Regions from separate parts of the Homo sapiens genome. Here regions 1 and 3 are each linked to region 2. Evidence: fine-mapped expression QTL. A gene starts in region 2. Each other region holds a variant in brackets. All regions are shown on one strand. Distances are from middle to middle. Region 1 overlaps KSR1 (kinase suppressor of ras 1). Region 2 holds the start of WSB1 (WD repeat and SOCS box containing 1). Region 3 has its middle 48 kb from the start of MIR4522.

Region 1 (4,231 bases), 170 kb before region 2:
TGAACCTGGGAGGCTGAGATTGCAGTGATCCGAGATCATGCCACTGTACTCCAGCCTGGGCGACAGAGTGGGACTCTGACTAAAAGAAAAACAAAAACAAAAACAAAAAACAAAACAAAACAAAAAAACCAGGAGGTTGGATGGGCCAAGGGTTCAGTGGGGTTCCCAATGCAGGGTCCTGCAAGCTGTGCTACTAAAGTCATTACTGTGCCCTGCCTGGCTCCTTCACTAGACTAGAACTGTCCCTAGACCCCAAAGACTGGGAGAACAGCCCACCTACTTCAGAGCCCTTGCTAGGTGGCTGCCAGCCAGGTAAGCACATCAACAGTAACTAAAGGTCTGTCCAGGGAACGTGCCTCAACACACCCTAAGGACCCAATCTGCAGGAATGCCACCCCTCCCCTCTCCCAGCAGTTCCATCATCAGATGCTCCTGGGAGGCATAGGGAGAGCTCAGGTCCCCCACACGGTGGGACTCTGACCTCTGCCACGGCAGAGCTGTGTGAGGGCCAGGCCTCTCTGACCTTCCAGATGGCAGGAGGGCCTCCCCTCTGACCCCCTGCGGCTCCAGGGCAACTGCTCAGGAAAGCAGCCCAAGGGCAGAGACTGTACCTACCACAGTTCCCAACATCGCCTCCCAGCACAGCCTGACTCTGCACCTACCACAGTTGCCAACATCACCTCCCCCAGCAAAGCCTGATGGTCAAAGTCCTTCAGCCCCTTTCTCCACGCCAGCTTGCTTAGGAGGGATTTTTCTCCACAAGAACACAAGGTGGGGAGACTCAGCATGGCAGAGCCTGTCTCTGGAAAGTACTAGTAGGCTGGCAGGAAAGGGCAAGTCACAATGTCCCTGGAACATAAATCTCCATGAGGCAACATGTGTCTGCTTCTACACACCCTTGTCTCCCCAGCGCTGGGCAGATTCAAAGGAATGAAGGTAATTATTACTGGCATAGGTTGCAGGCCCAGCTATTAGGCAGGCCAAGTGTCCCTCTGTGAGTACACTGGGGCATAAGAACATTCCCGTTTGCCTCGGTGGAGTTTTCAGACCCCTAGGAGGGTCTAGCGGAGACAGAACACCAGCTCCTGCCAGGATGAAGTAGCCTCACAACTTCTGTTTACAGATTAATACCCTGGTTTCAAATTGTGCCTCCCTCCCTTTATATTTAGAGAGGGAAAATGTGTATGATGAAAACTGCTGATCTCCAGGAACGTGTGTGAGTTTGAGAAGAGTCAGGCACGCTGCTAGGCACACAGGCAGCAAACGTTAAGTCTCAGCTCCTTCTACCCTTTTCCATCCAAACTGGACCACCACACAGAGAAAAGCTATCCCCGGACAACCAGACACGCTGACCCACTACACCCCATCACAACCCAATTTCAGGCAGCAGCAGCCCATCCCTGGTCAGGGACCTCCACGGACATTTCACGTGCTGCTTCTCCCACTGAGTGTTTATTTAATGAAGGCCAGAGTGAGCTGGGGCTCCTCAGATTCTAGATAAGTCCGATGCAGTTGCACAGGCCAAGCCCTCCAGGTCAGATCCTTCTTCAAAAGCCAGGAATCCAGTGTTGCAAGCACAGTCTCTGGGGCCACGGCCTGGTGTGTGGGGAGCCCACAGAACAGGAAAGAACGCTGGAGTGGACACTGCCACTTGCCTGCCTGGCCCCAACACATGCTGCTGGCGGTGGACGGTCCCACCCAGCTTGCTGAGATTGTTTCCTGGCTTGTGTCACCCACCTGTATGAAATGAGAGGCAGCTGCAGAAGTACCTTTCCCTAAAATCCAGATTTACTGAACCCATAAAGTAGGGGGTTAAGTTTCCCTAGCAAGGGTCCAGTAGGGGTTAAGTTTCCCTAGTGGTGGCCTGTGCCATAAATGCTACTGGACCCTCACTAGGGGCAGCTGCCAGGCAGACTCTTTTCGTAGTATCAGCACGGACTGACAGACAAAATGCTGCAGGTGTGAGCAGTCTCGTTCCTATTTTACAGACAGGAGAGCTTGAGATTCAGAAGTCATGGGACTTGCCTAAGGTCACACAGACAGAACCCAGGCCCAGTATGAAAGCCATGGGGCTTCCTATTCACCACGCTGCTCCTATGGCAAAGATTCTTCTAATAAACTTAACCCCTATGTTATGGGTTCAGTAAATCTGGATTTTAGAACCATTCTTAAAGAGGGTTATTCTTAAACCAGGGTAGTATAAAAACAATCACAAACATTTGATTTCACCCAACCAAGTCTCCTTCTCTAACCTAGAGAATTTC[G/C]AGCTTCCAGAGCCCTCAGAGATCCACTCCAGCCTCCTTGTTTTGCAGGTGAGGAGGCTGAGGCCTCCGGGATGAAGTGACTCATCTAAACTAGCTGGTGGCAGCCCCATGGAACTCACTCCAGGGGTCTAAATTCCCATCCCCCAAAACAACCCAGGCCCTGCCTTTTCAGGAAGTGGAGTGAACCCGAATCCACATCACGGTGGGAAGAACAGGGAGCTGCAGATCCCCTGTGGGCCTTTGGATGGGTTCTCTGCTGCCAGGGATGATCGTCTAAACAAACACTCAGGAGGGAAGCCACTGAATAAACCAGCTCCAACACTTAAATAGCTGGATGCTCTGGGGTGTCATGAACGCCACACTGCCATCAAAATGAGGGACTCCGGAAGTTAGGGTAGGACAAAAGGCCATTCCAGAGAATGCACAGCAAGTGGTTCTCCTATATACACACTCTGGAAGCCAGGAGCACTTCAGAGCAACGTGGGGACAATCCCACAGAGGCCAACACAGAGAGCATTCTCCAAGCCCAGCAACACCGAAGTCCAACCACGCACACTCTGCCAGACAGCGACCCCTCCTCCCGGAACTGAGCCTCACAGGCCCCCTATTGTTGTCAGCTTAAAAACTGAACTTTGCTGAGCAAACACACTCAGCTGTGTTCAAAAAATCAGTTTCTCTCAATACTTGGAAAACTGCAGCATGCATGCAGAAAGGCCAGTTGTAGGGGGTTTTGTTTGTTTTTTAAGCAAAGCCTTGGTCAGTACAGCTTTAGCCAACTGTAATAAAAAATAATAATACCCAGCACTGACTGTATTCTTCCAATGTCCTGTGGTTTTATAGCTTTTAAGAAAATAAAACTGAGGGAGAGTCACCCCCGAGCATTTGGAATCAAACAAGGATTCGGCTTTGTGGCATGCCTGGAGGAAGGATTGGTCTTGTAATAATTACCGCGATCACAGAGGGCCTTATGACAGCTGGCAGAGGCAATTAGCAATAAGGGGCGGGGGGAGGGTTTGGGGGAGGAGAAATTGAGGATCTAATAAAACAAAACATCCCCAGACCTGCAGGAGGCCAGATGTGGCAGGGCAAGATGGTGAGAGGTTCCTTCTTCAAGACGGGGCAGCTATTAACTGGTCTGACGTTTCACCGCCCCGTCCCTGGCCAAAATCACATTCAGAATCCACTAGTTGCCCTCATTTGTGTATGGACAGGGTGCCCCAACAACCCTCGGGCTGGTTTTTCCAAATCCTTCAGATACTTCCCCAGCTATAATTTGAGAGAGGAAGGCCCGCATATCTTATTTCTTCTTTACACTCCAGACTGTCTCCATCAGAACCCTTTAAACAGTTTCATCTTCCCACCAAAGGCTTGCTTCCCAGCATAATCCTTCCTAAGCCTAAATCCAATCTTTGGGGGGAAGCAGGGGGAGTCAGCGGGTAATTATTAATACATTTTAAGCAGCGAGCCTCCGTGGCAACGTGAAAGGAAAGCACCAAACGCCTGAATAACAAAAATGCAGTTTCAGCAACACTTTTTGAAAAGGCGGCAGACAAGACCTGAGAGGAGAGGAAAGGAAGGGACAGGACGGCGTCTGGGGCGTGAGGGGAACAGGGGACGGCAGGCCTGCGATCACGCTTCAGGGGAACCTCCTCCGTCACCCTGGCCCACGGGTGCTCGGCTCAGTCACACGGGGAAAAGTCCAGCTTGTGACTCGGTGGGACAACGAGTCCTGCGGCCCCGCAAACTGGAAATGGGGTGGGGGCGGAGAAGGGGGGAAAGGGGATGTCCGCGCGCAGCCCACCCCGCACGGGCCCCTCGAGCCTCCATCCCAGTTCCCACGACGCACCCGCCCCACAAATCCTGCCCAAGATGAGGGCTGGTCCCGGGTCCTCCGGCTGCCGCATCAGCGAGTGCAGGAGGGAGGGGAAGCCTCCAAGGGGGGCGACGCGGGCTCAAGGATGCAACTC
Region 2 (4,231 bases):
CAGGACCGCAAAGTTTTCAAAATGGTTTATCAGGATGAAGTAAAATACAGATTTAAAAAAAAGGCAGATCACTCGTCTATAACATTATGGTGTACTAAAGTAAAAGAAAAACCCACTGGACTGATAAGAACTTTTGAGTTCTTTGTCCCACTTCGCGACATACTTTCTAGTCTTAAAATACAGTTAAAATAATAACTGGACACAAATTCTGTGTTCTTTGCATCTTTTTTTTTCTTTTTTCTGTGTGAACTCTGCTACAATTTTTTCCCTTTTTTTTCTGTGTTTGTATCTTTAAAAATGGTTATTAAAACCAGGGTTAAAGTCCCTTCCTAATCAATCATCCCTAAGACAACAAAAGTCCAGAATTCTAAAACAGCTGTTTCTAGATATAAAAATTCACCCACATACAAAATAGTGCGCGTTTTGGCTACTTCAGCCTCTTCCCTTCTCTAGAAATAACTCCTCCTTGTACTTAGTAAAGGCACACATTCACTTCAAGAGTAGGAAAATGTAAATGCTCTCTGCTCAGCGGCCGCAGCTAATTATTACTTCACACAGTAAGATCAGTGTTTGCTAAGTGTTATCAGCCAATGTACAGCACCCCCCAACACCGTCAAACGTTGTTCCAGTTATTTTACTTTAAAAGAGGATTTAAATAATGCGACGTGCTTTCCACTGAGCCACTAAGTAGGTGTGGACGCACAACCTTCAACACTAATTGCCCTTTACTAAGCCGACCAGGGCTAGACACTAAGCCAGAAAAGCCTTTTCCAGAGTTTCCTCTTCCGCACAAAAGCTTTCCTTCTGTCACTCCACCCAACCACCCAGCTCCTCCCTTAAGTGTTTGAAAGATAATTCTAAAAGTCTCCTCCCCCGAACCGCTGCGTTTCTTAAGGCCACACCATTTTAAAAATACTGTATTGCTTTTGCCAGGCTGTTGGGACCTCTTCCATCTCATTTCTATCTAAGAGTGGTTGGTACACACGAGGACCCCCTCCTTTCATTACCGCTTACAACCCACAAGTTTACTTTTCCCCATTGTAAACCTAAAGTCCCTGAGTGGCCCTTCCCTGTCCACTCGACAGTCATGCCCTGAGCCAAGAACTCCCAGGACAAGAGCCCTGCGCGGACCTCCGACGAAGAAACCGGGGTCCTTGCCCGCCCCAGCCACACAGCAACCGCGAGGGAGCACAGTAGGTGCTGCATCCACGTCGGTGCCGTTTACCCCTCAGCCAACTCCCACCGAGGCGGCTTCCTCCTCCTCGCTAGTGGGCTGGCCCTGGCGCACTGGAGCTCTTCCCTCAGACTTGGAGTCGCTTCCTCCCAAACCTCCTCCGGGGAGTCCCTGCCTCTCCTCGGCCCTCATGCGCCCACCCACGGTCCCAATCCTCACCGATCTCTTTCTCGTTGACCCTCGGGGGAAAGCTGGCCATCTATGGGGCACCGTCTGATTCCGGGAATACGATGCGGACCCAACAACAGAGAAGAGAGTGGCGACCGCTGAGGGGCGTGACGCCAAGTTGGTCCCTCCCGGGCCCAGGGACAGAGGAGACGGGCGGGGGCGGCCGCTGCGGCTTCTGCTAACTGCCTCGGGAAAGCTCCCGAAGGCCTCAGACCAAAGTACGGAGTCAACCACAGACAATAGACCCTGTACCCAGCCTCGCGCCTGCGGAGGAAGACAGTTCCCCTAAAGCGCCGACTGCAAACGAGACACTGGAGTCAAAATGGCGGGCGGCGCCGGAGATATCTGGGCGGCAGGGGCGCGGCCACGTGACGTCACAGCCCGAGGCCCCCGCCTCCCGACGCACGGGACGTGATCTCCCCGGCCCGGCGCGGGCGTTGCCTGGGGGCCTCGCAGGGGGAGATCCAGCCCAGGCTGGTTCCGCTGACTCTGCCTGTAGGCCGGTGGCGTCTTCTGGGCCTGGATGGTCTAATATGGAGTTTATAAGCTGAAGTGGCTTTGAAAAGGGCAAGCAGAGAATTGTATTATTATTAGCCTCCTAGCTTAAAGATTGCATGGAACTTAAACTGGCTGAACCAAAAGAACAAAAAGACATTTCAGGTTTTCACTCAATTTGGCCAACTCCCCAGCCCACAAGTAATAGGGAACTGAAGGATGCACTGATGAAAAAGACAGGATGAAAATTAACATCGTTGTGCACCACCTGTCCAGCTGCGATTGTTCAGACCTGAGCCAGCAGGTTTTAGGAAGGGCCGAGGGGAACGAGAAGGAGACTCGGGCGTGATCGCGCCGCACCGCGCCGCGGGGCCTCTCTGGACTGCCTTTGTCCTGGCCAAGATGGATCCCACTGTCCTGGCCAAGATGGATCCCACTGTGTCAGCTCAGAATTGGCCCTTCCTCCACCTTACCTGAAGGCCTCTGGGAGGCACCTAGTTGTCCACACATCAGACTGATAAATGTGTCAGTATCTGCTAGATGCCAGCTTGGTTCCCGGTCACAGATGACGTATTTGCATTTTAATGGCTTCTCGTGTGGACCCTAAACATTGCAAAGGCCTGGGGCGTATAAGACTGGGAATTCAAATATGTGGCAGATATTCATGGGACAGAGTAGAGTGTTGCATAGCCGCTTTTTTTTTTTTTTTTTTTTTTTTTTTTGAGACGGAGTCTCGCTTCTCCCAGGCTGGGGTGCAATGGCGTGATCTTGGCTCACTGCAACCTCCGTTTCCCGGGTTCAGGCAATTCTCCTGCCTCAGCCTCCCCAGTAGCTGGGATTTGTACAGGCATGTGACACCAAGCCCGGGTAATTTTTGTATTTTTAGTACAGAGGGCGTTTCACCCTGTTGGCCAGGCTAGTCTCGAACTCCTGGCCTCGAGTGATCCGCCCGCCTCAGCCTCCCAAAGTGCTGGGATTACAACGTGAGCCACCACGCCCGGCTGCATAGCCGCTTTTAAGAGATCTCAAATGATAACACTGTAGGGCATGTTTACTTCATCTTTTCTTTGCATGAGTGTATTAATTCTTCAAATAGCGAAATGTTTAATAAAACATCGCCCCTCCTTTTTTTTTTTTTTGGTTATTTATTTATTTTTTTTTTTGAGACGGAGTCTTGCTCTGTCTCCCAGAGCAGAGTGCAGTGGCGCCAACTCGGCTCACTGCAACCTCTGCCTCCCGGGTTCAGGCGATTCTCCTGCCTCAGCCTCCCGAGTAGCTGGGACTACAGGTGGCTGCCACCACGCCCAGCTAATTTTTTTCATCCTTTTAGTAGGGAGGGGGTTTCACGATATTGGCCAGGCTGGTCTTGAACTCCTGACCTTGTGATCTGCCCACCTCGGCCTCTCAAAGTGCTAGGATTAGAGGCGTTAAGCTACTGCGCCCTGCCTGCCCCTCGTCTTTAAAAAAAAATCACTTTGTTAGGCTGGGGGCGGTGGCTCACGCCTGTAATCTCAGCGCTTTGGGAGGCTGAGGCGGGTGTCAGGAGTTCGAGACCAGCCTGGCCAACATGGTGAAACCCCCATCTCTACTAAAAATACAAAAAATTAGCCAGGCGTAGTGGCGAAGTCCCAGCTACTCTGGAGGCTAAGGCAGGAGAATTGCTTGAAACCGGGAGGCAGAGGTTGCAGTGAGCTGAGGTTGCACCACTGCACTCTAGCCTGGGTGACAAGAGTGAAACTCTGTCTCAATAAATAAATAAATCAATAAATCACTTTGTTAGCTTCAGTCAACGATATCTTGAGGACTCACTCTGTATCAGGCACTGGGCCTAGTTGCTGAATTTTTAGAGTAGAACAAAAGAAAAACTTTAATGCAGTCTTGTAGCTCATGTACCAACATTCATATCAGTCTGAGTTAATTCTTTTAACCAACTGCTATTATCCCTGTTACTTGTACTATACCATACAAATTCATGGGAAATACCAGTTTTTGAGTGTCCAACAGTGAATTATTGTGATGACTTTTTCTTTTTTTTTTTCTCCCTGAGATGGAGTCTCACTCTGTCGCCCAGGCTGGAGTGCAGTGGCACGATCTCGGCTCACTGCAACCTTTGCCTCCTGGGTTCAGGTGATTCTCCTACCTCAGCCTTCCGAGTAGCTGGGATTACAGGCACACGCCACCATGGCTGGCTGATTTTTGTATTTTTAGTAGAGACGGGATTTCACCATGTTGGCCAGGCTGGTCTCAAACTCCTGACCTCAAGTGATCTGCCCGCCTTGGCCTCCCAAAGTGCTGGAATTACAGGCGTGAGCCACCCCGGCCAGACTTTTTAAT
Region 3 (4,231 bases), 48 kb after region 2:
TTGTCCACTTTAAATGGTTGAATTGTATGGTATGAGAATTACATATCAATAAAGCTGTTTTATAGAATAAATAAACAAACTCCCACACAGAGCCAGCAGCCAGCCTTCTTCTTGTTTCCATGCCAGGGATCTCGCTCCTATTTGCCCTTAATGTATCTTCCTGTTGACACCCAGCCAGCAAACTCATGTTTGCTCTGCGGTGACATCCCCAGGATGCACCAGGCCCTGGGCCTGACATTGTTCTGCAGTCCTTGCCAACTAGGTCAGCGTCAGGGAAGGCAAACAGCATATTTCAGAGGGTGACAACATAAGGGCGTGAGAAGCAGCCAGAGAGAGCCCCCCACCAGGCTCCCTTGGCCAAGACACTGGGGACCTGTCCTCTGGTTGAAACCTCCTATTCCTGCCTCCTCGACCCCCACTCCCCAGATGAAGGTGGATGCTACTGTGTGGGGCTGGAAATATAAAAGCACTTCCCCAGGGCAGTGATGGGCTCTGGGGAGCCATTGTGGTGGGAAGGAAGATAAGAAACACTTAACCTCAGAGAGGTTAAGCAACTTGCCTAAAGTTACTCTGCATTAAAGCTTTGAGTCACTTGCATGGCTAGAAGTTCTTGAGCTGGATTCTATCCTTTAAAAAAGATTCCAAATAACATATACATCCCATGGTAGGGAATTGGTTAAATTAATTATGCTCCAGTCACACAGTGGAATAGTATGCTGATGCTAAAAAGAGTTTGGCATGCTTTAAGTACTGATATGGAATTGTCACCAAGATGTGTTTTTAAGTGAAAAAAAGCAAGATGCAGAACAGTGTGTATAGTATTCTACTATTTGTCTAAAAGGAGGCAAAAGATACATATACAGTCATCATCCCTCCATATTCACAGGGCATTAGTTCCAGGACCCCTGCAGATACCAGTATCTAAAGATGCTCAAGTCCCTTATATAAAATGGCATAGTATTTGCACATCCTACTGTATACTTTAAATCATTTCTAGATTACTTATGATATTTTTATTTGTATTATTTTTTACTATTTTTATTTTTATTTGTATTATTTATTTGTATTTGTATTTTTTACTATTGTACTACTATTTTTATTGTTTTTTTCAATATGTTTTGATCTGCAATTGAGTGAATCCATGAACACAGAACTTGCAGATACAGAGGCTGTGGATACAGAGGGTCAACTGTATTTGTAATTGCTTGTGTCCAAATAAAGTATCTCTGAAAGGACACATAAGAAATTAATGACATTGGCCAGGCACAGTGGCTGGTCCCAGCACTTTGGGAGGCTGAGGTGGGTGGATCACCTGAGGTCAGCAGTTTGAGACCAGCCTGGCCAACATGGTGAAAGATTGTCTCTACTAAAAATACAAAAAATTAGCTGGGTATGGTGGTGGGCACCTGTAATCCCAGCTACTCAGGAGGCTGAGGTGGGAGAATACCTTGAACCTGGGAGGCAGAGGTTGCAGTGAGCTGACGCTGCAGCCTGGGCAATAGAGCAAAACTCTGTCTCAAAAAAAAAAAAAAAAAAAAAAAAAAAAGAATCACAGCTCCAATCAAGGAAGCAAAATTTTTCCAGAAGCTCCCAGAATTCTTTGGCTTATACTTCATTGGCCAACTATGTTATGTAACATTTTCAGCTGCAAGAATGTCTTGGAGAGAAAGTAATTTTCCCTCAGACTTTATGGTAGAGGGGGTGAGTATGGTGGCATGTCTGTGGTCCCAGCTACTCAGGAGGCTGAGGTGGGAGGATCAATTTAGCCCAAGAGGTCAACACTGCAGTGAGCTGTCATTGCATTGCTGCACTCCAGACTGGGCAACAGAGCAAGACCCTGTCTCAAAAAAGAAAAGAAAAGAAAAGAAAAATAATGAATAAATGAATGTCCCATGCTCTGAAGTCCATCCCCAAATCTCAAGTTAAGAGCCCTGCTTCCTAGGATGATTAAAAATTGAATCCTTTAATATTTGTCAAATGCTGTGCTAATCCTATCAGAAATTACTGGTGAGATTTGAGAAGGGGGATTGGTAAGGAGCATCCCTTTTCCTCAGTGTGAGTTCTAAACTATTGAGACATAAAGGAGTAAGATAGGTATGGATTGCAGTATCACCCTCATTGCTGATAAAGGCCCGGATTGAGGGTGTGGCTTAGATGAACCAGGCAACAACCAACATCCTAATGTCATACCCAGAATTAGACCCACCTGCCTGGTCATAGGCAGGACTCAGACATGCGGGCCTCACTGCAGGGCTGGCTGCATGACAGCTGTGCTCGCCAGCTGCCGATGGGAGGCCCCACCCAAGGGAAAGCAGGAGGCAGGCAGAGCCAGGCTTACACTGCCC[T/G]CTGCAGCTCACAATCACCTCCTCTTTCCAGGAGGGGCTTGCAGGAAGGGGAGAGGCCAGGAGGCTGTAACACTAACGGAAGAAACATACGGGAAAGGAGTCTTTTCCCAAATCCCCAAATTATCAAGATTGTACTGTTTCTGTTTCTCCACATTAAAGGAGATCACGCCAGCCACATTTCAGGGCCTGGTGCTCAAAAATAGTAGGTGCTTAATGCAAATCAGCCTCCTTTCCTCCTCTTCTCCATTCAAATTCTTTCTTAACCAGGGTAGGAAGAGATTAGCCTTCCCTTCCTCTTTAATGTACGGAGACTTCATTTCTCAATTTCTCTTCATTGCTCAATTTCTCTTCCTGTGTTGCAATTCCCCAAGCATGTGACTTTCATCTGGCAACCCTAGCCCTGTGCTATTGGGATAGTGGAGTTATGCCTCATGCGTCATGTTCCTGCACCACTAAGTCAAATTTCACTTAACAGACTCAGCTGCCCCTGCTCTGTGGAGGGTCTCCTCTCCCTTCCTCCTCTAGGACTCATCCATCTTCTTTATGCCCCACTTCCAACAGGTGGAGGACATTTATCTTCTTTTTGGAGCCACTGGGCATTTGAACTCCTTTCTCATGTTTGGGGGACTCCTACTTTATGATTGGATCGGGAGGAGGTCCTCACCTTCTACTAGAGAAACGGAAATGTTCCGTTTCCCCTTTCTCAGCCTCCCTTTTGCAACTACAGCCAGCGCATGTGACGAGGGCTGGCCAACCAGAGGGGCCTGTGCCAGACCTTAGGGGAGCGTGGGGGTTCTGAGGGAGGCCAGGACTCCCGAGAATGTCCACTGTGGATGGTCGGCAGTGCAGCACATCTGAATTCCTGGCACAGCAGGGGCCGCTGAGCCGGCTGGGGACACATCGAGGTTTCTCGGCACATAGGGTTTGGGTTCCGTCGGGGGGTGTTGTCCCTGACTGTGCAGCTTTAAACCTAGTTTTAGGGTCTTGTGGTGGTTCTGTGAGCTGCCTGTTTACCTTCTGATACATTTTCTTCTCCATTCAGGCAGTCGGTGTTTATAGTTTGTAGCTAGAAACAATGACAGTGAGGCCGTAATTGAGTCCCTGACTTGGTCTTCCAAGCCTGACGTTCCCACTGGTTCTCCCTTGAAGTCAGAGAATACTTCAAGAGTGCACAGGCCTCATCTCAGGAAGGACATGGGTGCGCTCACCTTGTCCTGCAGCCTCTCTTCCCCTTGGTGGTGGGGAAGGCGGTGCTGTGGACAGTGACTAACTCAGAATAGGAAACAGGCATATTGATCTTCATTTTGTCAAAATCAACCCAGTGACCTCAGGCAAGTCACTTCACCTCTCGAGATTTTCTCACATGTCAAATGGCCTGGGTGGAGATGCCAGACCCAAAGATGCCCCAATTTTAATACCGTGTCTGTTCTCGAAGCTGGAGTCTCATTTTACTACTTCAGCTTCATGGAGTGTTTTTGTTTATTTTTCCTGTAATTACTTATGGTAACCATAGTTCAAGCAACAAAGCTTGATGGACTATTACTTTTATTGCACCTGCCAGTCCTGGTTTCCAGCCCCAGACTCAGCTATGTCCCAGCTTTAAAAGTCCAAGAACCAGGACTTTGCAATAGAGGGATTACAATAATGTGCATTCGAACTATACCTGGGGACTGGGGGTTAGGAATTCTGTCTTGATACCACTTATGAAAGGTGTCCCTTTTACTTATGGCAGGTGGGTGGTTTATAGAACAAGCCCATTCAATCTCTTTGGGGCTTGAATCCTGGCTCTGAGTGGCTGTGAGTGGCCTTGAGTGAGTGACCTCATTCAGGTTCCCACATGCCATTTAATACTCTAACTCATGGAGTAGGGCTGACTTAACCTTCCC

What was found.
Region 1: its variant is fine-mapped to the expression of WSB1 in whole blood (INTERVAL, PIP 0.98).
Region 3: its variant is fine-mapped to the expression of WSB1 in whole blood (TOPMed, PIP above 0.99).

What each region holds. Positions count from the first base shown.
Region 1 is chr17:27,456,951-27,461,181 of GRCh38, reverse strand. The region is part of intron 1 of KSR1 (kinase suppressor of ras 1); the gene reads right to left. Among named protein-coding and RNA genes, the nearest start is that of KSR1, 2.6 kb to the right of the region's middle. RefSeq lists an enhancer at 351-1,054 and a silencer at 3,875-3,924. The variant G/C (reference allele first, on the strand shown) is at 2,265.
Region 2 is chr17:27,291,598-27,295,828 of GRCh38, reverse strand. It overlaps WSB1 (WD repeat and SOCS box containing 1), which reads right to left and starts at 1,715. Exons shown (of 9, transcript NM_015626.10): 1 at 1,394-1,715. The coding sequence starts at 1,433. It overlaps MIR4522 (microRNA 4522), which reads left to right and starts at 1,833; the gene lies at 1,833-1,919. RefSeq lists enhancers at 1,437-1,496, 1,507-1,566, 1,937-1,986 and a silencer at 1,687-1,896.
Region 3 is chr17:27,243,550-27,247,780 of GRCh38, reverse strand. No RefSeq gene overlaps it. Among named protein-coding and RNA genes, the nearest start is that of MIR4522, 48 kb to the left of the region's middle. The variant T/G (reference allele first, on the strand shown) is at 2,346.